Linked DNA regions of Homo sapiens. The protein of the gene in region 2 purifies or fractionates together with the protein of the main gene of each other region. This does not show direct contact. Each region holds a gene or a part of one and is shown on either strand. Other genes may lie near its edges.

What was found.
Region 1: the proteins of SLC26A11 (region 2) and MLLT10 purify together in Homo sapiens (affinity purification with mass spectrometry; one large-scale study listed by BioGRID and IntAct). This does not show direct contact.
Region 3: the proteins of SLC26A11 (region 2) and DDX46 purify together in Homo sapiens (affinity purification with mass spectrometry; one large-scale study listed by BioGRID and IntAct). This does not show direct contact.
Region 4: the proteins of SLC26A11 (region 2) and EIF4H purify together in Homo sapiens (affinity purification with mass spectrometry; one large-scale study listed by BioGRID and IntAct). This does not show direct contact.
Region 5: the proteins of SLC26A11 (region 2) and DDX42 purify together in Homo sapiens (affinity purification with mass spectrometry; one large-scale study listed by BioGRID and IntAct). This does not show direct contact.
Region 6: the proteins of SLC26A11 (region 2) and API5 purify together in Homo sapiens (affinity purification with mass spectrometry; one large-scale study listed by BioGRID and IntAct). This does not show direct contact.
Region 7: the proteins of SLC26A11 (region 2) and CAPRIN1 purify together in Homo sapiens (affinity purification with mass spectrometry; one large-scale study listed by BioGRID and IntAct). This does not show direct contact.

Annotation. Positions count from the first base shown.
Region 1 is NC_000010.11:21,540,732-21,544,231, reverse strand, and holds part of MLLT10 (protein AF-10), read right to left. Parts: intron 1-3,500. UniProt on the Homo sapiens protein: Probably involved in transcriptional regulation. In vitro or as fusion protein with KMT2A/MLL1 has transactivation activity. Binds to cruciform DNA.
Region 2 is NC_000017.11:80,230,427-80,233,926, reverse strand, and holds part of SLC26A11 (sodium-independent sulfate anion transporter), read right to left. Parts: intron 1-3,500. UniProt on the Homo sapiens protein: Sodium-independent anion exchanger mediating bicarbonate, chloride, sulfate and oxalate transport.
Region 3 is NC_000005.10:134,828,200-134,831,621, reverse strand, and holds the end of DDX46 (probable ATP-dependent RNA helicase DDX46), read right to left. Parts: intron 2,964-3,422; coding exon 2,916-2,963; 3' UTR 501-2,915; downstream 1-500. UniProt on the Homo sapiens protein: Component of the 17S U2 SnRNP complex of the spliceosome, a large ribonucleoprotein complex that removes introns from transcribed pre-mRNAs.
Region 4 is NC_000007.14:74,194,476-74,197,596, reverse strand, and holds the end of EIF4H (eukaryotic translation initiation factor 4H), read right to left. Parts: intron 2,857-3,121; coding exon 2,719-2,856; intron 2,429-2,718; coding exon 2,289-2,428; 3' UTR 501-2,288; downstream 1-500. UniProt on the Homo sapiens protein: Stimulates the RNA helicase activity of EIF4A in the translation initiation complex. Binds weakly mRNA.
Region 5 is NC_000017.11:63,780,670-63,784,169, reverse strand, and holds part of DDX42 (ATP-dependent RNA helicase DDX42), read right to left. Parts: intron 1-3,500. UniProt on the Homo sapiens protein: ATP-dependent RNA helicase that binds to partially double-stranded RNAs (dsRNAs) in order to unwind RNA secondary structures. Unwinding is promoted in the presence of single-strand binding proteins.
Region 6 is NC_000011.10:43,310,755-43,314,795, reverse strand, and holds the start of API5 (apoptosis inhibitor 5), read right to left. Parts: upstream 2,801-4,041; 5' UTR 2,669-2,800; coding exon 2,600-2,668; intron 1-2,599. UniProt on the Homo sapiens protein: Antiapoptotic factor that may have a role in protein assembly. Negatively regulates ACIN1. By binding to ACIN1, it suppresses ACIN1 cleavage from CASP3 and ACIN1-mediated DNA fragmentation. Also known to efficiently suppress E2F1-induced apoptosis.
Region 7 is NC_000011.10:34,096,731-34,099,920, reverse strand, and holds part of CAPRIN1 (caprin-1), read right to left. Parts: intron 2,726-3,190; coding exon 2,625-2,725; intron 2,224-2,624; coding exon 2,160-2,223; coding exon of another isoform or gene 2,140-2,159; exon of another isoform or gene 861-2,139; intron 619-860; coding exon 554-618; 3' UTR 1-553. UniProt on the Homo sapiens protein: mRNA-binding protein that acts as a regulator of mRNAs transport, translation and/or stability, and which is involved in neurogenesis, synaptic plasticity in neurons and cell proliferation and migration in multiple cell types.

The DNA.
Region 1 (3,500 bases), on a different chromosome or scaffold from region 2:
ACCATAGGAGGCAACATGGTGGTTAAGAGGTAACACAGTGGTTAAGAGCTTAATCACATCCCAGACTGTCATAAAACATCTATCTCTCTTAAAACTATAGTATCCTTACCCATAAAGTAAGAATAATATCCACCTCATAGATGTGACAGGATGCTTAAATGAAGTAACTGGCATAAAACATTTAGCACAGTATGTGGGCACATAGTAAACACTCAAAAAGTTAGCTACTCATTTTGGAACAAGTAGCACAGTAAGTCGGCAGAAAGAAAAGAATGGAAGCAGGCATGCAGACAAAAGTAGAAAAAAGATTCATAAGACTAATTCAATTCCCTTTCTGGGTGAAATACATTTCCATGTTAGGGTTCTTGACTCCTGTGTCCTTATAATACAATGCCCTTTCTTTGCTTATCTGTTTCTTACAAAGGACCCTGCCTTTCATAATTATACACTACAGACCGGGCATAGTGGCTCACAATGGTAATCCCAGCACTTTGGGAGGCCAAGGTGGGCAGATCACCGGAGGTCAGCAGTTCGAGATCAGTCTGACCAACATGAAGAAACCCCATCTCTACTAAAAATACAAAACTTAGCTGGGCGTGGTGGCACACACCTGTAATCCCAGCTACTCCGGAGGCTGAGGCAGGAGAATCGCTTGAACCCGGGAGGCGGAGGTTGCAGTGAGCCAAGATGATGCCACTGCACTCCAAGCCTGGGCAACAAGAATTAAACTCTGTCTCCAAAAAAACATAATATATATTTTTAAATATAATTTTAAAAAGGTTTTGCTTTTGCCTCTTCTTTAAAAATCCTTGGCCAGGCAACATGGCTCACGCCTGTAAACCCAGCACTTTGGGAGGCTGAGGCGGGTGGATCACCTGAGGTCAGGAGTTCGAGACCAGCCTGGCCAAAATGGAGAAGCCCTGTCTCTACTAAAAATACAAAAATTAGCCGGGCATGGTGACGCATGTCTGTAACCCCAGCTACTGGGGAGACTGAGGCAGGAAAATCGCTTGAATCCAGGAGGTGGAGGTTGTGGTGAGCCAAGATTGTGCCATTGCACTCTAGCCTAGGCAACAAGAACGAAACTCCATCTCAAAAAAGAAAAACAAAAAACTAGCCGGGCATGGTGTCTGTAATCTCAGCTACTCCGGAGGCTGAGGCAGGAGAATCACTTGAACCCGGGAGGCGGATGCTGCAGTGAGCCGAGATCGCGCCATTGCACTCCAGCCTGGGCAACACAGCAAAATTTCGTCTCAAAAAAAAAACAAAAAAAAAACCTTAATGTCACCCACATCCCACCAAATGATGTTAAAATAAAATGCCCCCCTGCAAAAACTTCTTTTTCTTAAAGAGGGTTTCACTTTGTCACCTGGACTAGTGTGCAGTAGTGTGACTATAGCTCATTGCAACCTCAAACTCACAGGCTCAATGGATCCTCCTGCCTCGGCCTCCCACGTAGCTAGGACAAGTACACCACCACATGTGGTTAATTTTTTTTTTCTTTTTGTAGAGATAAGGTCTCACTATGTTGTCCAGGCTGATCTCCAACTTGTGGCCTGATCTCCAACTCAGGCGTGATCCTCTCACCTCGGCCTCTCAAAGCACTGGGATTATAGGCGCAAGCCACTGCTCCCAGCAGCATCTAATATATATATATTTTTTTGAGACAGAGTTTCACTCATTGCCCAAGATGGAGTGCAATGGCACGATCTCAGCTCACTGCAACCTCTGCCTCCCGGGTTCGGGCGGATCTCCTGCTTCAGTCTCCCGAGTAGCTGGGATTACAGGCGCTCACTACCACGCCCGGCTAATTTTTTGTATTTTTAGAAGAAACGGGGTTTTAAGATGTTAGCCAGGCTGGTCTCGAACTCCTGACCTCATGTGATCTGCCTACCTGAGCCTCCCAAAGTGCTGGGATTACAGGCTTGAGCCACCATGCCCAGCCCTAATACACCTTTTAAGTTAACTACCTTATTCACACTGACACTTTGACCATGTCCTCAGAGAGAATAAAAGAGTGGAAGCACGTAACAAGTGGCATTTGAGGCAAATGATGCTGGCATTCTGACACTCCCTATTCATTATCTTCTCTCTCTGAATACCCACCTTATTTTCCTATCTTTTCCAGCCTTCAATCTACTGTGACACCCCCAGGAACAGCCTCATCTCATTGTCAGTGTTTACTAATAAACCATACGTTCCACTGCGTAGTGACCTATTCACCACAAACCGTAACATGATACAAAGAAAAAAAAGTCAAAGAGTAACGCTATAAAGATTTCACCAAGTCCCAAACTTTCTATGATTGATTTTATCCTCCATTTGCTAAATCACACTAGAATAACAGCTGTAATTCTATTAAAGTGCATTCTCACACACAACCAAAACATATCATCGGAACTATAAAAAAATTGCTCTGGCCGGGCACGGATGCTCACACCTGTAATCCCACCACTTTGGGAGGCTGAGGTAGGAGGACTGCTTGAGCTCAGGAATTCCAGACGAGGCTGGTCAACAAAGCAAGACCTCATTTCTAGTAAAATTCAGGCCGGGCGTGGTAGCTCACGCCTGTAATCCCAGTACTTCGGGAGGCCAAAGCAGGCAGATCACCTGAGGTCAGGAGATCGAGACCAGCCTGGCCAACATGGTGAAACCCCATCTCTACTAAAAGTACAAAAATTAGCTGGGTGTGGTGGCGCATGTCTGTAGTCCCAGATACATGGGAGACTGAGGCAGGAGAATCGTTTGAATCCAGGAGGCAGAGGTTGCAGTGAGCGGAGATGGCGCTACTTCACTCCGGCCAGGGCGACAGAGCGAGACTGTCTCAAAAATAAAATTAAAAAATTAGCTGGGTGTTAAGTGCTACAGGCCTGTAAGTCCCAGCTACTCAGGAAGCTGCGGCAGGAGGATCTCTTGAGCTCAGGACTTCAAGGCTGCAGTGAGCAATGATTGCGCCACTCCACTCCAGCCTGGGGAACAGAGCAAGACTGTCTCAAAATAATAAAATACAAATAGTTCTGAGACTCAACACATTTTTATAGGTTACTCAACCATTATTTCTTTCTTTTTTTGTGAGACGAGTCTCGCTCTGTCGCCCAGGCTGGAGTGCAGTGGCGCAACCTCAGCTCACTGGAACCTCTGCCTCCCAGGTCCAAGCGATTCTCCTGCCTCAGTCTCCCAAGTGGCTGGCATTACAGGTGCACACCACCACACCCAGCTAATTTTTGTATTTTTAGTAGAGGTGGGGTTTCGCCATGTTGCTCAGGCTGGTCTCAAACTCCTGACCTCAGGTCATCCACCCACTTTGGCCTCCCACAGTGCAAGGATTACAAGCACGAGCCACAGCACCCAGCCCATTATTTCTACCGCTCAAAAATTGCCCAGGCAAACACAAAAGCTTCTGCTTTTGCTATATGCCTAGGTAAAGAAGCTAAAATGTTTGTTCTCTACCTTCAGTCTAATTCCATAATCAACACCAAGGGAAAGGAATTTGCTATAAC
Region 2 (3,500 bases):
TGAAGGCAAAATAGACTTTCAGACATACAAAAGTCGAAAGTTGAAAGAAGACCAGGAGTAGTGGCTCACACCTGTAATCCCAACATTTGGGAAGCCAAAGTGGGAGGATCCCTTGAGCCCAGGAGTAAGAGACCAGCCTGGGCAACGTAGGAAGACACCATCTCTACAAAAAGTAAAAATAAAAAATTATCCAGGCGTGGTGATGCATGCCTATAGTCCCAGCCACTCAGGAGGCTGAGGATTGCTTGGGTCTAGGAGTTCAAGGCTGCAGTGAACTATAATTGTACCACTGCATTCCAGCCTGAGTGACAGAGTGAATCCTGTCAAATAAAAAAAAAAAAATGCTGAAAGAGTTAATCACCAACAGGCCTGCAACAGAAGAAAAAATAACATCCTTCAGGTAGAAGGAAAATTATACCAGATGGAAATCTGGATTTGTACAAAGGAATTAAGAGCACCAGAAACAGTGACTACGTGGATAAATCTAAGACTGTTCCTGCAGGGAATGGTGGCTCACATCTGCAATCTCAGCACTTTGGTTGGCTGAGGCAGGAGCATCACTTGAGGCCAAGAACCTTTGATCAGCCTGAGCAACATAGCCCGTTTCTATAAAAAAATTTAAAAAATTAGCCAGATGTGGTGGTGCATGCCTGTAGACCAAGCTACTCAGGAGGCTGAGGCAGGAGAATTACTTGAGCCCAGGAGTTTGCAGCTTCAGTGACGGATCTTGGCTCACTGCAATCTCTGCCTTCCAGGTTCAAGCAATCCTCCCACCTCAGCCTCCCCAGTAGCTGGGATTACAGGCATGCACCACCATGCCTGGCTAATTTTTTGTATTTTTGGTAGAGATGGGGTTTCGCCATGTTGCCCAGGCTGGTCTTAGACTCCTGAGCTCAGACAATCTGCCTCCCTCAGCCTCCCAAAGTGCTAGGATTATAGGTGTGAGCCACTGCGCCTGGCCTGTTATAAGGTTCTTATATCACATGAAGTTGAAGTTTAATGTATACTGTAGCAAGATAAAGATGTTTACCACAAACCTTAAAGCAGTCACTTAGAAACAAACAAACAAAAACTAAATATAGCCGTTACAGCTAATCAGCCAATAAAGGATGTAAAATGGAATCATAAAAAATAATCCAATAGAGGTAGAAGGAGGGGGAAAAGGGAACAAAGAACAAATGAGACAAACAGGAAACAAACAGCAACATGGTAGATCTAAAGTCAAACAGACCAATAATCACATTAAATATAAATGGCATAAGATTCCAATTAAAAGGCAGAGATTATGAGATTAAAAACAAATCCCATCTATATGCTGCCCATAAAACATACCATTAAACACAAGAACACAAATCAATTAAATACGTTAAAAGTAAAAAGATAGGAGGCTGGGTGTGGTGTCCCAGCACTTTGGGAGGCCAAGGCAGGTGGATCACTTGAGGCCAAGAATTTGAGACCAGGCTGGCCAACATGGTGAAACCTCATTGCTACTAAAAACACAAAAATTAGCTGGGCTTGGTGGTGCAAGCCTGTAATTCCAGCTACTTGGGAGGCTGAGGCACAACAATTGCTTGAACCTGGGAGGTGGAGGTTGCAGTGAGCCAAGATCACGCCATTGCACTCCAGCCTGGGCAACAGAGAGAGATTCTGTCTCAAAAAAAAAAAAGTAAAAAGATGGGAAAAGATATGCTAACACTAATGAAAGCTGGAGTAGCTCTCTTAGTATCAAAGTAGATTTCAGGGAAGAGAATATTGCCCAGAAAAAAAAGTATCATTCCAAGAGAAAATTATAATTCTATATGTTTTTATACTAAAAAACAGAGCTTCAAAATATATGAAACAATAACTGGTAAGTAAGAAAGGAAAATAGACAAAGTCATGGTTATAGCTGAAGTTATTTCAACATTCTTCTTTTAATAATCAACAGAACAAGTAGAAAGAAAATCAGCAAGAATATAGTAGCCTGAGATAACCAACCAGACCTAACTGACATTTACAGAACATTCCACCCAATAATGGCAGAAAACATGTTCTCAAGCACACACAGAATATTCACTAAGATAGACCATATTCAGGGCCATAATACAACTCTCAATAAAGGAAAACAGATTTAAATCACTAAGTACGTTTTCTTATCACAATGGAACTAAATTAGAAATCAATGGCAAAGTACTAATTGGGAAACCCCCAACTATTTGGAAACTAAATAACTCCCATGGTTCACAGAAGAAATCATATAATCCACTTCTAAATAATCCACAGGTCAAAGGAGAAGTCAAAATGGAAATCACAAAGTATTTAGAACCGAATAAAAATTAAAGAACAGCATATATATAAAAACTGTGGGATGCAGCTAAAGTAATGCTAGGAGTGAAATTTACAGCATTTAAACAACCATATTAGAAAAGAAGAAAGGTCTCAAATCAAAGATCCAGGCTTCCACCTTAAGAATCTGAAAAAAAAGGCCGGGCACAGTGGCTCACGCCTGTAATCCCAGCACTTTGGGAGGCTGAGGCGGGTGGATCACCTGAGTTCAGGAGTTCGAGACCAGCCTGGCCAACATGGTGAAACCCCGTCTCCACTAAAAATACAAAAAATTAGCCAGGCATGGTGGCATACGCCTGTAATCCCAGCTACTTGGGAGGCTGAGGCAGGAGAATCACTTGAACCCGGGAGGCGGAGGTTGCAGTGAGCTGAGATCACACCATTGCACTCCAACCTGGGGGACAAGAGCGAAACTCCGTCTCAAAAAAAAAAAATTTTTTTTGAAAAAAAAAAAAAAAAAGGATAAAGTTAACTGAAAATAAATAGAAGAAAGGAAATAATAAAGGCCCAAGCAGAAATCAATGAACTAGAAAACCAAAGCAAAAGGGAGATCAATGAAACCAAAGGTGGTTCTTTGAGAGGATCATAACATTGACACACTTCTAGACAGACCATTCAGAAAAAAAGACAGACGACTCGGGTGAAGTCCTTGTTCTGCCTCTTCCCAGTCGTGTGGCCTTGAGAAGTTCTGTTTTATTTTTCATCTTTCATAGGCTCACTTTCCTCACTGACAAAATGGAAAAAATAATAAACTCATTCTCAAAGCTGTTATAAGAATCAAAAGCTTTTTAAGTAGTTTCCTAAGACAATGCTACACACACTGGGGAGAAAGGAGTCAGCAGCCCTACACTGTAAATGTTTCTGAAGTTTCTGTACATTACGATGTCTAGACATCTTAAAAGACCTTTCTGGCTGCGGAGACACTGCCTTCAGGGTTAGGCAAGTACTAGAGAAAAAAGCAGCCCCAAGTGTGTCTCTGATATGCCAGCTAACCCCTCTGGAGCCATCCTTCCTCCACCAGCCTGGCCTGCACCCCAGGAGGCAAGATTTTTCTGCCTTAAGCCTGAAACCCACCAAAATTCCTCCAACTGCAAGTCCTAAGCTGGTCGCCTTTCTTCACCTTGCCTTTATCAAGAAAATCTCGATAAAGGCTGTGGCCTAAACCACAGCTTTGG
Region 3 (3,422 bases), on a different chromosome or scaffold from region 2:
CTCCCGGGTTCAAGCGATTCGCCTGCCTCAGCCTCCCGAGTAGCTGGGATTACAGGCATGTGCCACCACACCTGGCTAATTTTGTATTTTTAGTAGAGACTGGGTCTCTCCGTGTTGGTCAGACTGGTCCTGAGCTCCTGACCCCAGGTGATCTGCCTGCCTCAGCCTCCCAAAGTGCTGGGATTACAGGCATGAGCCACCGCACCCAGCCTACATATCCATTTTGTAAGAGTGTCACTGTGGCAAAACCCCAACTGGTAAATGAACCTATTATTTCACCTATGTTTCTCTTATGCTAAATACAATGAACATAAAAGACTTAAGAGCCTTCTTCAGGAAGACATTTTTGGAACAGAATTATAAATATTTTGGGTAATAAGTTGCTAGAATTTTTTAAATAAAAATAGAGAGTATAATACTTCTCTCACCAACATAAACAAAATTAGAGAAACAGAAGAAAGAAAAAGCATTGAGGAAAGATAATTTTAAGAAAGTGCAGATTGAATTCGAATTAATTTTATTTTATAAGGAATTTAGAAAACATGAGCAAATATTCATATTGCATTAAAAAAACAAAGTCTATATATCATTCAAATTTTAAAAGTCAGTGTGACACTAAAAAATGTACTAACAAAGTAATATGTTTCATTTTAGAACAAAATTTTATCAGTGGCTCATCACAACTGATATACAAACAAAATGCTAAAATGATGTAAAACTGAATCTCAAAGTGATCCAGTTGGATGAAGGGAGCACCAATTATCATCGATGTGGGACTGCCATATACTCTACCAAAGAAAACAAACTACCATTAGGTGATAAAGATGAGCAAATAAATAAACTAGAGGGAGGGAATGAGCCCACAATTTCTGAAATTTTACAGTAAGTGGTTTATTTGTTTCTGTTGTTACATGTCTTTTGTCTGTTTTCTTCCTTCAAGAAATTAAGTGGATGTGTGAAGGATCCAAGAATATTTCCCAGGTATATCTTACTTTTTCAGGAAGAATAACTTTATACTGAAGAAATAATGATTAATACTCCCTATCACTTCAGCCACTGAATATACTATTAAAATTATTTGTTTTTACAACTATAGTATGCTTTTATTTATTTATTTTTAAACTGTAAGTCAATAATATTTAAAGAATGAAAGTCTCTTCATTTAAGAAATATACAGTCATCCTTTGGTATGAGAGGGGGACTGATTGCAGGACACCCCTTAAACCCCTCCTCTATACCAAAATCCATGGATGTTCAAGCCTCTTATATGAAATGGCTTGCTATATGCATATAACCGATGCACATCCTCCTGTATACTTTAACCGCCTGTATACTGTAACCTTTAAATTACTTAAAATACCTAACACAATGTAAATGTTATAGTAAAACTTTTACAGCTGTTAAACTGTATTTTTAAAATTTTACATTCTTTTTTTCTTTTTTTTTTTTTTTCTATTTTTGATCTGTGGTTGGTTTAATCTGTGGGTTTGAAACCCTTGGATATAAAAGACTGACTTTATTTAACTCCTGAAAAAAATTCCTTTTTTGAAAAGTGACAATAACATGAAGTTAATACATCAGGAGTCTTGAAAAGAATATTAGGTAATCCAATTATAACAATTTAAATTAGAATATTCAGGAACTGTATCTTGAAGGCTCAAAAATACTATTTATTTATTTATTTATTTATTTTTGAGATAGTCTCACTCTGTCGCCCAGGCTGGAGTGCAATGGTGTTATCTTGGCTCAGATTCTTCTGCCTCAGCCTCCTGAGTAGCTGGGATTACAGCCACCCACCACCATGCCGACTAATTTTTGTATTTTTAGTAGAGACAGGGTTTCACCATGTTGACCAGGCTAGTCTTGAACTCCTGACCTCAAGTGATCTGCCCACCTCGGCCTCCCAAATTGCTGGGATACAGGTGTGAGTCACTGCGCCCAGCCTCAAAAACACAATTTATGATTCCTTGTGAATTAAATTTCACTAAGATGAAGCACATCTAAGTTTAAAACTTGGGTACCATTATGTTTTACAATTTTTAAGAAAGAAAATTCACAACCTACTCAATAATCCTGAAGAAAAATCAGATTAAAAGTAGTAGGATATTTGTACATACAACATGTATAGATATATAAATAAACACTTTCTAGAAGGAAAAGGTATCATATTTAGTATTTATAGGCTACACTCTTTCTTTTAAGGAAGATTATAAAAGAGGGGCTAGGTATGGAGCCAGAAGTTGTGAGGGAAACCTCAAAGTAGTAAATACTATAACTCTTTGTAGAGTTTTACACTCAGTGTAAAGAAATGCAAAAAAATCCTTATACTATTAAATCTTTACTTGTATAAAAACCGAAATTAGTCCAACTACTTTTTGCCCATTTATGATGATAAAAATTGAAACAAAAACTCTCAACCCATTTTGTAAGACTTCTATTATAACATTCTTAAATCCAGTTCATATTGTTCCAGAGTCATGTAACATCAAGGTGGGGACACAAAATATGATAGTGAATTTTACCTTTTCTTAGGAAATGATCACAATTTCATTGAAAGTACAGGATAAAGTGAATAGCCCCTTAACGACTTGTGTACTTTATTGTCTTCAATAGAAAGTTCAAATATTTCCATTTTTTAAACCTCTAGAATATTATCCGGACATTTAAAATATTGATATTTGAGTTTACATTAAAGGACATCATACTCTGAAAACAGGCTGGCTTTAAATATAGTTTGACTGATTGTGGGGGTACTTACGGACAGATTTCTTTACCAAGTACCAGTTTCTTATATTTAAAAAAAATCAGCAAGATAGAATTTAAAAAATCTTCATTTACAATACATTGTAAACTGCAGACAGCAACTGCCACATACATCATAGACCAGCACAGGTAAAAATCTTTTTTCCGGATGTCTATAAGACTTTGTATCTTCCTTTATTTGTTGGTTGGTATGAATTTTGCTGTAATAGGAAATAAAAGATATGTCATCAGAGAAAGCAAAACAAAAAAAACAAAAAAAAAAAACGAACCAACCAACCAACCAAACAAACCCAAAAGGAAATATTTAAGATCATTTCCTTTGCCAACTTATAAAACTATTGGTTATTTAAAATTTTAAATGTTACTATTACTGCATTGAGAAAGGAAAAACTATTCAATAACTAATGAATTCTCTGTTCACTCAACTATTCCTTAACAACTATGTTTTGAATCAACCTAATGGTGGTAGCATCTATGGGCACAAGATTCTTTTCGACCACTCCTTGGTGAAATAGTATTAAGCACATGATTTAACAGCTGTTTTACTTTTTCCCTCTTGTTTTGTGAACCCACTTTTCATTAAACTTCTAACCACCCCCACCCCCCAACAAAAAAAGGAATGCTCTGTGAGGGGAATTTTAGAAAAGCTCTCAGAATTA
Region 4 (3,121 bases), on a different chromosome or scaffold from region 2:
CCAGGACTTTGCCAAACACGCATTCATGCCCCGCACCTTGCCCACTCAGCTCTTCTTTGTCTGCCTAAGTCAATTTTAACACTATCCAATACCAACCTATAGCAGCACCTCCCCAGAGTCAGGATCTGCTGTCAGGAAGCAGCAGCCCTCCCAGCCATGAGGGGCACCTAGAATTTCGTTTACAAGCAGTTGTTAAAAGAAGCCACATGTTGTGTAAATGCTTGATTTCTTCCATCTTGGGAAAAAAATGTTCCTTTACCTAACCAAAAACAGCCAGACTTTCAAGGTTTCTGCCTGGTTGGGAAAAGGACATTTTTAGCAAGTGAGGGGAAAAAATTGGCATCCTATTTCTAATCATCACCAGCTTTTAAAATAACTTCACTCATCCCAGAATTAAAATGACAGGAAGACTCTTCCATTTCAATGGTGCTTCCCAAATTTAAAATTGTTACATTCCATGAGCAGCTAAAAAGAACTCAAAAATAAAGGCAAGCATTAAATATTACGTAAGGTTTTCTTTTATTTAAAAGATCATTCACAAAATACCATATCCATAGATTTACTTTCTGTCATATAGCTGAATGTGTTAAGTGTTTGGAATTCCATTCTTACATTTAAAAGTCAACTGGATTGCCCAGCAGTTTAGATGCATGTGTTTTGTTCTTTATCTTATCCACATTGAAGATGTAAGTAGGTCATCTGAAAGCATCGGGTTTGATTACACCACATAATGCATGTCTTTCTGAAGTTAAGTGTTGGTGTTACACAAATGGTTCTTATCTCAGAAGCAGAGAAGCTGACAGGTGGAAGGAAGGAGAGAGAGTTCTGTGGATTGCTGAGGCCTTGTAACAAGACACAGTAGGAAAAGCCCAGGATGACGGCTGGTGACCAAATACTAAGCACATTCCGCTGGGTGCCCCAGGCCACCCTGGCCCTGCCATCACCTGGCGAGGGCCTCTTTCCCAGGCTCCTGCTGCCGGCCGCCCCCAAACTGCTCCCCATAGGACAGACTGGGACTTGGGTACTGAAGGATTTTTCATCTGTTCACACGCAGGCGTTCAAGCTCAAAAGCCTAACCCCTAGCACTCCCACATAACTGCTGAACCCTGCACATGGGAACAGTCCAGTGTGTCCCCAAGATGTGGCCGCAGACCTAGACAGCTGCAGTCCTCTACTGCTATCTGAAGGTTCCTGACAGCTCTGCATAGTACAATTTATCAAAGGAAATGAGTAAAGTGCCAGATTCTAGACCCATTTTGGCTCTGAACTGAAGGGGAGGTGGGAAGCACAGTATCTCATTATGTTGCCTATACTAGGAACAGATCCACACAACACACAGGCAACAGGGATGGGGGGAAACGCTGCGTCAGCGCCGCAGTCAGCCCAGTGCAGCACCAGCACCACCCCCTCCACCCCCAAAGCGCCTTGGCCCAGCAGAAAAGAAACCCGCTGGCCATTCACTGCACCCAGCCAGAGAGGCCAGCCTCCACCACGCACGGCGAAAGGAGTGAACTAGCTGGGACACACACACGTGTGAATGCATGCAAGCATTCACTGCATCTTCTCCGTGGACTCCCTACCGCTCTTCCATAGCCCCCCCTTTCAGCCTCACTGTTTCTCGTGTGAGCCTATCTGCTTGGACAGTCCACTCGGGAGGGGGTCATGGAGCCAGGACTCCCTCTAAATAGGAATGGAAAGGACCCTGCAGATATTTTTATCCTAGTTGTGAAAACAAGGTGCCTCTGATTCTCTATATCCATCACAGCTGAATACCAACAAGGTCTCTGCTGTTCCCTCTGTCAGTGACTCTGGTTTTTGTTGGAAGCCCCAGCAATACAGAACTCAACATGCAGGTCAGAAGAGAAGCACTGAGGGAATGAAAGGAAACGCCTGGAGTTGGGCCAGTGTCTAAAGTAAAGAGAAAGCAAAGGAAAAATGACGCAGCACCGCAGCCCAAACGCCCCCCCACGGCGGCCACCTCTGCTCCTCCGAGGAACCCCATGTGCTGCTGGGAAAACAAGGAGCAGGAGAAAAAGGACAGAAGGAAAATGGGGAAGCAGCGGAAGAAAGAAAAAAACGCACAAACAGGCACTAGATAGATACAGCAAAGCCCAGAATGTACTAAAAACCACTTGTTAACAGCTGACATGCACTCACAAGCTGTGTTTCCGCTGTGAGGAGGCCAATGGCAGGCGCAGGAGTGGCGGCTGCAGGACGGCTGCCCGGGGACTCACCAGGCTGTGGTCCTGCTCTAACCCCCCACGCCCCATTCCCTCCCAACCGCAGGCTCATTCTTGCTCCTTTTGAACGACTTCCTCTCTAGGCCTGGCACCCCCGAAGATAGCAGAGTTGGGATTGGCTACTTGATTGAGGGGCGTCGCGACTGTTCGAGGTTTAAGCTGGAGTCGTGGTCTCTGTGCTCTTTCCTCTGGGGGAGAAAAAGCAGAGTTTGTCAGAGTGTGGATCCCATTCCATATCCAGCAAAACGACCATGCTGATGTTGCTGTCAGCAAACCAGCCCACTTTCTAAAATTCACCTGGCCTGCTACCCCAACAGCAGATGCTCTAATGACCAAGGTGAACTTGCTATTCCAGAGAACGTGGGGATCTATGCCGACAACTCTGTGTGCCGTAGAACGCCAAGTCCCCACGGGGTGTGAACCGGCCATGATCATCCCATCAGGACAAGATGCCCTCCACTGACACATGAGCCCGTACCTTCTGTGGGTTCTCTGAAATCCATGTTGGATCCACGGAGGGGAGGGCCATCTCTGAAGCGGCTGCCCATGGGGGGGCCTGTTCGCCGGTCGCCTGGGCGACTACCTCCCCTGCCCCCTAAGAAGTCATCCCTGAAGCCTGAGGAAGAAACAGGACACTGAATTACTTTTCAAACTATCGTCTCCAAGCTGCTTATAGAATAATGTTCTGGGAATTGTTTGAGTTTCATTTTAAATTCTTTAGTTTGTCCACTATCTGAAGTCTCTCCAAAATAAAGTGTGTTAAAAGTGGGTCCAAATGCCAATGTGTGGAGTAATGACAGCGCTAACAGACTTCCCAAAGAAAAAGGAATCAAGATCTTAGGAGAGCAAACAAACGAGCTGTTTACATGCTCAGCTTGCAT
Region 5 (3,500 bases), about 16 Mb from region 2:
CCCCTTGTCTATATATACTTCATAGGTTTTGTTCAACTGCTATTATACACAGCACTTAGTTGTTTGCTTAGTTTTAAGGTTTTTGTTTGTCTGTTTGTTTTTTTGGGAGACAGAGTTTCACTCTGCCTCCCAGGCTGGAGTGCAGTGGTACAATCTTAGCTCACTGCAACCTCTGCCTCCATGGTTCAAGTGATTATCCTGTCTCAGCCTCCCGAGTAGCTGGGATTACAGGCGTGTGCCACCAGGCTCAGCTAATTTTTTGTATTTTTAGTAGAGATGGGGTTTCGTTATGTTAGGCAGGCTGGTCTTGTACTCCCGACCTCAATCAATCCAACCACCTTGGCCTCCCGAAGTGCTGGGATTACAGGTGTGAGCCACGGCACCCAGGCTGCTTAGTATTAAACTTGAATTACACTACATCAATCTCTACTTAGACCCTTAACTCCAGATAGAAACTGTCTTTACTCATTTTGGACTTCCTTCTCTAACAGTGAGAATGACTAAGGTATGTATTTAGTAAGTACTAATTTACCTGAACTTCATCTCCTGCTGTCTTTCGGAATCCCATAAGGGGATTCCTTCAATCAAGGAATCAACGTAATTCCAGTGTGATGAAATTTAGTAAGAATCTTTACAAGCAAGAAAATTTCAGCATCTGACGTTTTTAAACTAATCTATAAGCTATCTTTACAAGAGGTGTTCCCAAGCAACAAAAAGGATGGGCTCAATTTTAATCTCATTTTTCCTAGTGTATACAATGTATAACAAGGAGCTAATAAGCCATAAGGATGAGAAGGCAAAGAAAGGATAGTGGAAAGACATTTACGTTCAGGTGGATTTTAAGAATCACACAATCTCCTAGCAGGAAAACTTTCAATGGTTTACTGAAAGCTTGCTGAGAAGGTCAGGTGGTATATGATGTGCTAGGCATTCATACATGAAAGATACAGTCCCTGTTCTCAAGGAGTAGACAGTGCAGTCTGAGGCAGCTGAAAACAACATGATGCGTTCTAACAGACGTACTATACAGAGTGCATTCACTGGTGGTCCATGAGTGGGAGCAAAGGCATAGAAGTGTTCTGAGAGATGACATGTTAAATTTTGAAACCTCAAGAGGCATTAGATCAAAGAGGCATTAAAGAAGGGCATTTCAGATGGAAGGATCTGTTAAGTGTTACCACAGAGAACAAGAAATAGTTCAGTGCAGCTAGAGTTCAGTAGCACATTTGGGAAATTTGCAGGACACATGTTCAGAAAGACAGGTAGGGCCAAGATGAACAGCTTAGAAGGCTATGCTAACGACGTACCATACAAAACTGTATTCTGCCAGCTACAAAGAATCGTTAATTTTACACAGAAGGGAAATTTTCAGATCAGTGTTTTTGAAAGACAGAATGAGAGATACTCATGGTAGAGGCAAGGAAAGTAGAAGGCTGTTGCAGCAACGCAGGTATAAAGCGACAAAATTCTGAACTAAGAAAGCACCTGTGGGAAAGGAGAAACGGGGGATGGATCTGAGTTATTTATTTAGATATCTGAGGAAAGATCAATTAGGATTGTGTGACCAGTAATTGGTGTGGAAGCTAAGGAAGAAGAGTCTAGAATAACTTCAGAAGTTTCTGGCTTTAAAGACTGGGTGAACTGTGGAGCCACTAATGGAGATGGAAACCTAAAAGAGCCAGGTTTGCAAAATTAGGCAAAAGGTGAGTTCAGTATCTATGAGAGAGCTGAGTAGAGATGCCAAGCAGGGGCAGTAACTGCAGAGAGGGGTCCGGAGTGAGCTATAGATTTGATGTAAGCCATTTGCATTTGAGGTTACTGATGTAAATAAGCTAGCAGAGAGACCATGCAGAGTGAGAAAAGAAGTAAGACAATTCTTTCTTTTCTCCCCAAGACGGAGTCTTGCTCTGTCGCCCAGAGCTGGAGGGCAATGGCATGATCTTGGCTCACTGCAACCTCCGCCTCCTGAGTTCAAGCAATTCTCCTGCCTCAGCCTCCCGAGTAGCTGGGATTACAAGCACGCACCACCGTGCCCAGCTAATTTTTGTATTTTTAGTAGAGACAGGTTTCACCATGTTGGCCAGGCTGGTCTCAAACTCCTGACCTCGTGATCCACTGCGCCCAGCTGGTAAGACAATTCTTTTTTTATTTTTATTTTTTGAGACGGAGTCTCACTCTGTCGCCCAGGCTGGAGTGCAGTGGCACAATCTCGGCTCACTGCAAGCTCTGCCTCCCGGGTTCACACCATTCTCCTGCCTCAGCCTCCCCAGTAGCTGGGACTACAGGCACCTGCCACCAGGCCCGGCTAATTTTTTGTATTTTTAGTAGAGACGGGGTTTCACCATGTTAGCCAGGATGGTCTCGATCTCCTGGCCTCGTGATCCACCTGCCTCGGCCTCCCAAAGTGCTAGGATTACAGGCGTGAGCCACCACATCCGGCCCAGTAAGACAATTCTTAACATATATCACTATTTAGGAATGGGCAGAAAAAGAGAAGCTTACATGGAAACTTCAGATGGAACAGGGATTGGGGAAGGGAAAGAAAGAAGAGGGGGAAAGAAGGAAGGGGAGACAAGGAGGAACACGGGTGAGGAGAAAGAAGCTCTATAGGCAGAAAACTAAAGAGAAGTTAGGTAAGTTAAGAACTAAAATGTGCCAGGCACGGTGGCTCACGCCTGTAATCCCAGCACTTTGGGAGGCCAAGGCAGGCGGATCACAAGGTCAGGAGATCAAGACCATCCTGGCTAACACGGTGAAACCCCATCTCTACTAAAAATACAAAAAATTAGCCGGACGTGGTGGCGGGCACCTGTAGTTCCGGCTACTCAGGAGGCTGAGGCAGGAGAAAGGCATGAACCTGGGAGGTAGAGCTTGCGGTGAGCCAAGATCCGGCTACTACACTCCAGCCTGGGCGAGAGTGCGAGACTCTGTCTCAAAAAAACAAAACAAAAAGAACTAAAATTCTTCTGTTGTATAGGCAACCAGGAGTCATCAGTGAAAGCAGTTTCAATGGAGCAGTAGGGACAGGGTTGAGGAGTACCTGGCAAGTAAGTAGTAGAAGATGAAGACTAGGTCAAGAGGAGTCAAGAGTACTTTGTAGGCTGTTTATCAATGATAGGAAGGAGAAAGTGAAGCATTACCTACAGAAATTTTATTTTTTAAAGAAACATAGGCATGTTTATATGCTAAAGGGGAAAAACCAGTAAAGTCTGAAAAACTGAAGATGCAAAATGACAGAAAAAAGTCATAGGATTTCCAGAGAAGACCAGACACAATCAAAACTTTTAACAACAGGAGTAACTCACTCTTCCCCCAAAGCTAGAGGGAAGGAGTGAAAAGAACAAACATGACTATGAATCAGCCCTATTAAATAATCAAAAGGTTCATATTACAAAAGCAGCAAATCAACTCCTGCCACAAACAGGCAGGCAGTGAGACCTTGGGCAGGTGAGGGTTGCTTACTGGCTCTCAAGACTTAGCAAGTTGGAAAAGCGATCCTT
Region 6 (4,041 bases), on a different chromosome or scaffold from region 2:
AGTATAACCCAACAGAGCAGAATTAGTAGGCATTATCTTCGGTTTTCCTACAATTCACAATATTTGAGCTGCCTGAGCTAACCACTACATCTCATTATGCAGAGATACTGTTTAAATAGTTGCTTGACAGTTGTCAATACAGAACGCATTGATCACCCATAACCTACAGAGAATTGTGTTAAATTTCAGTGTCCAGCCGGGTGTGTGGTACATGGTAGGTGAAATGTACGGAATAAAGCATGGAGTCCTCATTAAAGTGTAGACAAAGGTATCCTTTTTCATTTTTCACAAACTTGTCTCTAAAGTACCCTTACTAAATAAAGAGTAGATTTTTGCTGTGAAAGACATTTTGACCCCTTGGGGAGAACTCTCAATTCAATCTGGTTTTTATAAAGATGACATGAGAAGGAAATGCAAGCAACTCTCAAAATTAGAGTAGGGGATGGACAGCATTATGTATACGGTTTCAAAGGTTTCTTAGAAGGATTCCTGACACAACCACTGTTGTAGCTTTCACCCTATCCCCCTACTGATATGCAACAAAGTCTAACGTAGGTAGAACAATTTGCTACAAAGTTACCCAACTAAGTCACAGATAAATTATACGATTGAGAATATCTTCACTACTAGTTCTTTTTAGGAACAACAAATTCAAACTGATTGACCACACATAGTTTGTATCTTTTTTTTTTTTTAATTTTTTGTTTGAGATGGAGTCTTGCTCTGTTGCCCAGGCTGGAGTGCAGTGGCCCGATATCAGCTCACAGGAACCTCCACCCTCCGGGTTCAAGCAATTGTCCTGCCTCAGCCTCCCAAATAGCTGGGACTTCAGGCGCATGCCACCACGCCTGGCTAATTTTTGTATTTTTAGTAGAGATGGGGGTTCACCATGTTGGCCAGGCTGGTCTCGAACTCCTGATCTCAACTGATCTGCCCATCCACGCCCCTTAAAGAATTGGGATTACAGGCGTGAGCCACCGTGCCTGGCAGTTTTTACCTTCTTAATGAACAGAATATTCCTCCTTCACAACCGACCTACACACTCTATCCACATGTACAGCAGAACATCCGTATACATTTCTTACTGATAAAAGTGAAATTCCCTACTGACAGGGAATGAAGGAAAAAAAATCATTTGCTATTTCAAACTGGTATATTCTTAATTCTAGATTAAGCTACAATAAATCTCCAACATGAAATTTTTTTTTTTTCGTTCAGCTCAGAAAAGTCCTATTTGAATTATGTTAAGAAAAGGGGACGGGAAAGGTACTCCCACGACTGTTAATAGACTAGAATCTTCCACTTTCTCCAAGAAGGGATGCGTAAGCAGAAAAATCACAAAGTTCTAAGCGCTGAAAAGCTATGGTGTGGGATTTCTAAAACAATGATCAAGGTTACCTCCAGGAGAGCCTGGTTCTTTTCCCAAGAACACACATACCCAACCACTTATCAAGTTCAATGTACTCCAGTACTTGAAAACTCATACAGGGAACAAATGACTTGTATGGATAATTCAACACTGCTGAGAAACTGTGTATCGGGGGCAAGCATCGTTAAGAGAGCTCTTCCAGACAACTCCATTCAGAGCTGCGCACTCACACTCTCCTTCGCCCAGCCCTGTTTTATTTTCTTCAAACATGTTTCATTAAAAAGAATAAATTTTTAAAAAAAACCTTTTTTTTTTTTTTTGAGACGGGGTCTTGCTTTGTCTCCCAGGCTGGAGTGCAGTGAAGCGATCTCGGCTCACCGCAACCTCTGCCTCCCGGGTTCAAGCAATCCTCCCACCTCAGCCTCCTGAGTAGCTAGGATTACAAGCGCGTGTCACCACGCCCGGCTAATTTTTGTATTTTTAGTAGAGACAGGGTTTCACCATGTGGGTCAGGCTGGTCTCGAACTCCTGACCTCGTGATCCGCCCGCCTCGGCCTCCCAAAGTGCTCGGATTACAGGCGTGAGCCACCAAGCCGGGCCTCACAATGCCTATCTTTCTTACTACACTCCCTCCTAACTGTACATTCTGGGAGAGCGCGGACCTTTCCATCTGTATCTCCAGCGCTCGGCACTCAAAAAAATGCACTGAATAAATGAAACCGTGAGCTCTCATCAAAGTCTGGACCAAAGAGTCCCTCTTCTGTTTCTCACAAACTTCTGTCTCCTAAACACTCTTCTTCAATTAGTAGCAGAATTTTGCCTCCCCCCCAAAAAAAACACATCTTGACCTCATGAAGAAAACTCCCGATCTAATCTTGGAAGCACTGAGCTCCACCGAAAAGGAGAAAGGCTTAAGAGAATCCTGTAGAGAAAAGCTCCGTGAGAAGAATTAACGTGAGCCTGAACGGGCTGAGTTAGGTTACGCCACGGTGAGAAAAGGCTGGGCAAGGGAGGCAAGGAAGCCTGGAACCCTGGGGACCGCGGTCTCCCTGGTGAAACCAGAGTCTACACTCCCAGAGAGGCCCACCCCGACGAGACGGCCTGAGGAGGCTAGGAGGCCCCGGGAGGATGAAGCCGCAGCCCCCGCTCGGCCCGGGGAGTGCGGCGGGAAGCGCTTTCGAAAGGCCGCGGAGCGCCAGGCCCTGCAGGCCGCCCGGGGACTCAACTCACCTGGCCCACTTGCTCCGTGGCATCGGCCAGGATGCCATAATTGCGGTAAAGCTCCTCTACTGTCGGCATGGTGAGCGACAAGCCCAGGGCCCGGTTCCGCTATCCTTGTCCTGACCGGCGCCACCGCCGCCTCGGAACTTCTCCAAACCCACTACCCGCACTATTACACCTCCAGCTGCCGCCAGTGCAGCCGCCAGTCACCGCGCACAGCGCGGCTGCGCCCCCGACGTCTACGTAAAGACGCGCACGTCGGGAGCGGCCTTCAGTAGACACCCCCCACCCCAATGCGCCTCCGCGGTTTTTGTCGCCCTCTACAGCCTGGAGGAGCAAAAAAGCGGCAAGGATGATTGAATTAGCTCACGCCTTTTTGAAAGCTTGAGCTTGGCTGCAGGCTCTCCATGGAAGGGGTGTGGGTGGGCGGGGAAGTGAATACAAAGACAATTGCGTTTCTGCCCTTAGAAGATCTTACATATGAGAAGTCACAAATGGTTTCCTCCTGATTCAAGGAAGGTAATATTAATCGGTGGCACTAGAGGCTAGTGGGTCCGGTGGGAAGCAAAAAACATTCCTATGCTATTAAAAAACCCTCTGTGTCCACCACGCTCATCAAGTGCGGGGTCAAATTTGGCCTGCTGGAAGAATTTGCTTATCTTTGCTGCCAGTGTAAAGAATTGGGGCCACCTGATTATGTCCAGTATCCAAAAGAATAATAAATAAATGAAATCACGTACGCTTACTGATAAGAATTTCTAAGATACAAGTTTAAATGAAATTATATATATAATATGATATAATATATAATATTTTATATATTATATAATATATAACATTATATATTAATATATAATAATTTTATATATTATATAATATATAATATTATATATTAATATATAATATTATATATTATATAATATATAACATTATATATTAATATATAAATATATAATATATAATATAAATATAATAATATTATATTAATATATAAATATATAATATATAATATAAATATAATAATATTATATTAATATATATTAAGATAATAATATTAATTAATACATTAATTATATAATATAATTATAATATATCTATATATTGAGATATAATATTAATTAATATATCAATATTATCAATTATATATTATAATTATCTTATATTATATATAATATATTAATTATATAATTAATATATTAATATTATTATCTTAATATATATTAATATATTATTATATTTATATATCATATATAATATTATGATATTAATATTATAATATATATTATATATTATATTATATATACAATTATATATATAATATATATTATATATTGTATATTATTATATAATTATATATTAAGATAATAATATATATTAAGATAATAATATATTATATATATTAAGATAATAATATATATTATATATATTAAGATAATAATATATATTTATAT
Region 7 (3,190 bases), on a different chromosome or scaffold from region 2:
AGCCTTATATGTGTGATTAGGACCCATGCATAATTTGGTATGCATCTGAACGTTCAGTGCTCCAATTTAACTGGAAAAGCTGTGAAATGCAGTTGTTCTGCCAAACCACACTCCACTCCTTTCATCTTCCTTTCTAGGGAAATAATTTAGTTTGTCAGTTATCATTGAATAACTCGAGGGCTGATTTGTAGATTTTATCCAATGTCATAAAAGTCAATCTTGCCTTTTTCAAGCCACTTCAAATAACTATGGAGATTATTATCACCCTGTAAAGTATATTGTTTTACTCCTAAGCAAGGGTGAGGAATCTGAGTATCATGTGCAAGGCTCAAGATGACGCTTAGGACAGAACATGCAGAGTAAAAATAGTTTCCTTCCATATCCAGGTAATAGAAAGCTGACAATTGTAGTCCTGTCTTTATGGGATGAAAACAGTCCCTTTACAATAAGTTTCCTGAAAGGGAGAACAAATAGATAATAACTCTTCTGGTAACATATTATGGTACACTGGCCAGTGTGTTTTTGGCGATTAAACATAATCCTGTGAATCAGATTAATTCACTTGCTGAGTGTTCATTTGCGGCATCCCTCTGTTGGGTCTTGGGGGCCCTCCACGACCTAGAAGACAAAAATGGCATTTGATTTTTCTTTCAAATATTATTTGTTTTGCCTTCAAGCAGATTTTCATCTGAAGTCAAGAAGCATGTGGGCAGCCTGTCACCACATTATTAGGCTTAAGAGGTCAATTCTTCAGTGTTCAAGTTTCCCCTGTCCTGGAAGTTGTCATGCGCAAATTTGCTCATGTTCTCTTAGCTAAAAGAAGAGTAAAGCTAATGGAGTATTCCACCAGTACTCATTCATTCATTCATTCAACAAATATTTATTGAGTGCCTACTATGTGCCAGGCACCATCATCAAGCGTTGGGAATAGATACAGCAGAGAAGACAGACAAGGTACCTGCTCTCATGGAGCTTACATTCTAGTGTACACTCTAGCTTACATTTCAGTAGTAAGTAACATCATACTATCAAAATTAATAAAAGCACCAGAATGAAAACAGACCTTATTACCTAAACTGTTAAAAAGAAACTACATAACATTCAAAACTGTATAATGACTTTTAACAGATAAAATAACTTTTTACATGCTGTTAAAACAGATTTTTAGCTATCAGTTAACTCAACTTTCATCGAATATGCTACAAGGTGGGAAAGAACATAACCCACATTCACATGCAAACATCCTTTGATACTTCTAGTCAAGTCAGTAATTCCCAAGTGATCCATTAATTTTTAGAAAAATGTACCTTTTTCCTGGCCAGTTTCTACTAGTATTCAAATCAAAGTACGTTGTAATTCCTCCTTAACACACATTTTATACATGTTATGGCCAATAGAGGAAACCTGTTTGATGTTTAACCTCCCTCAAATCAGAGAACCATTTAGAATTTCAGACTACATGAAATGCTAGCTCTAATTGTTAAATAGGTTAACTTCCTGCCAAAATGGGAAGTAGTTTTCCAACAGTAAAAGAAAAACAAAAAACTCTCTAAACCTGTAATTTTTTTTAAGTATAGCTCAATAAGTTAGGAATTTGGGAGTTTTGTTTAAAAGTCAGAAATAACTTGATATTTATATCACTAATAGAGGTCCAAAAGGCATTGCAAATTCCATTAGTTCTATCACTTCTAAATGGTTCTCTAAATGTTAACTATGGCTTATCCGGCCATTAAAGGGTGTCTGGCCCTAAAATATAATAGGCATGTTTCAAAAAAATGAAAGAGGAATAATAAATTTATATAAATGTTCAATCTCATTCCAAAAATGTCTTACAAAAATGTTTCAGTAAGTACTTCCTAAAAACATTTAGCAGGTTTTAGGACCTGAAAAATAATTTTCAGTTGGAAAAACACTTTTTCTGAGAAGAGAATATGTTCTAGTTTTCAAGACAGTTTATATAGTAACAGGGAAAATTAAATCATTCAAAAATTAAAATTTGGGTCCAAGATTAAGTTTTAGAAACAGAGCATTTCATTTAATCCCTAGCAACAAGTCTGGAAAGGATAAATGTATTCCTAACATGCAGACTATTAACAGCTCTTCCAAGGCCAGAACAGAAGCTCCACTTAGGAGCTAGGATCACCACCACAAAATATTACCTCGTGGGGCTCCCCGTGGTCCACTCTGCCCAGAGCCTCGCTTGAAATTCTGCTGATATCCATCCTAAAAGACAAGCTAGTTAGTATTGAAAAGGTACTTTTTAAAAAATGCTTACCCATCTATTCTTTCAGTCTAACACTCAATACAGAATTCTTCCTTAATCTTTTAGACACTTCAGTATCAGTTTATCACAGCTACACCTTGTTCTGTAATTGTTGTACTTCTACTATTCTCAAAGAACATTCAGTGAAATATATTTCTCTGCTCTTGGAAATCACTGTCTTTAACAGGCTTTACTAAAGGAGTACTGATGTTGAGTGCTAAAAGCTTTTGTTTCAACAGAGTGTCTTGGACACCACAAAGTTAACGCCAAATTAGTTACTTAGGTTCATTAAGCAACAACACTAAGTCACTTTCATTGGTATATTTAGTTCAGGTTTACACTTTAGAACTACTTTACCTACCCGTTGATAGCCAGAGTAATCCCGGGGAGCACTGAACTGAGACTGTGTATAACCACTGTTTGGAGTGTTAGAGAATGAAGGGCGGTAACCATCATATCCTCCTAAAATTTAGGACAAGAAAAGAAATAATTTTCTTATCTTCACAAGGAATTTTTACTTTTTTATTAATGAAGACGGGAAGAACTAGAAATTATAAGCCAGGCTAGTTAATCAAATTAATCTCCAATTTCCTATCTTGATCCAATCTGTTTATAAATTTCTGTAAGTACTAACTGCCCCTCAGAAGATAAACTTTTAACCCATCTATGCATGTAAACACACATCTGTACAAATATAATAAACAATCCCCGTAAGTTTTGGTAATGTGGAAAATACTTATCCTCCAGGAGATAGTGGTAGACATTAATTTGACATAACCAAATGAACAAAAATTCCATGATCTGTTATTTAAATAACAAATTATACCAAATACACAAATTGTACCAAAATATACATTGTTTAAATTGCACATAGGAGGCTAATGCAGATACATCCTTCCCAAAAACTGTGTGATATATTTTACAAAT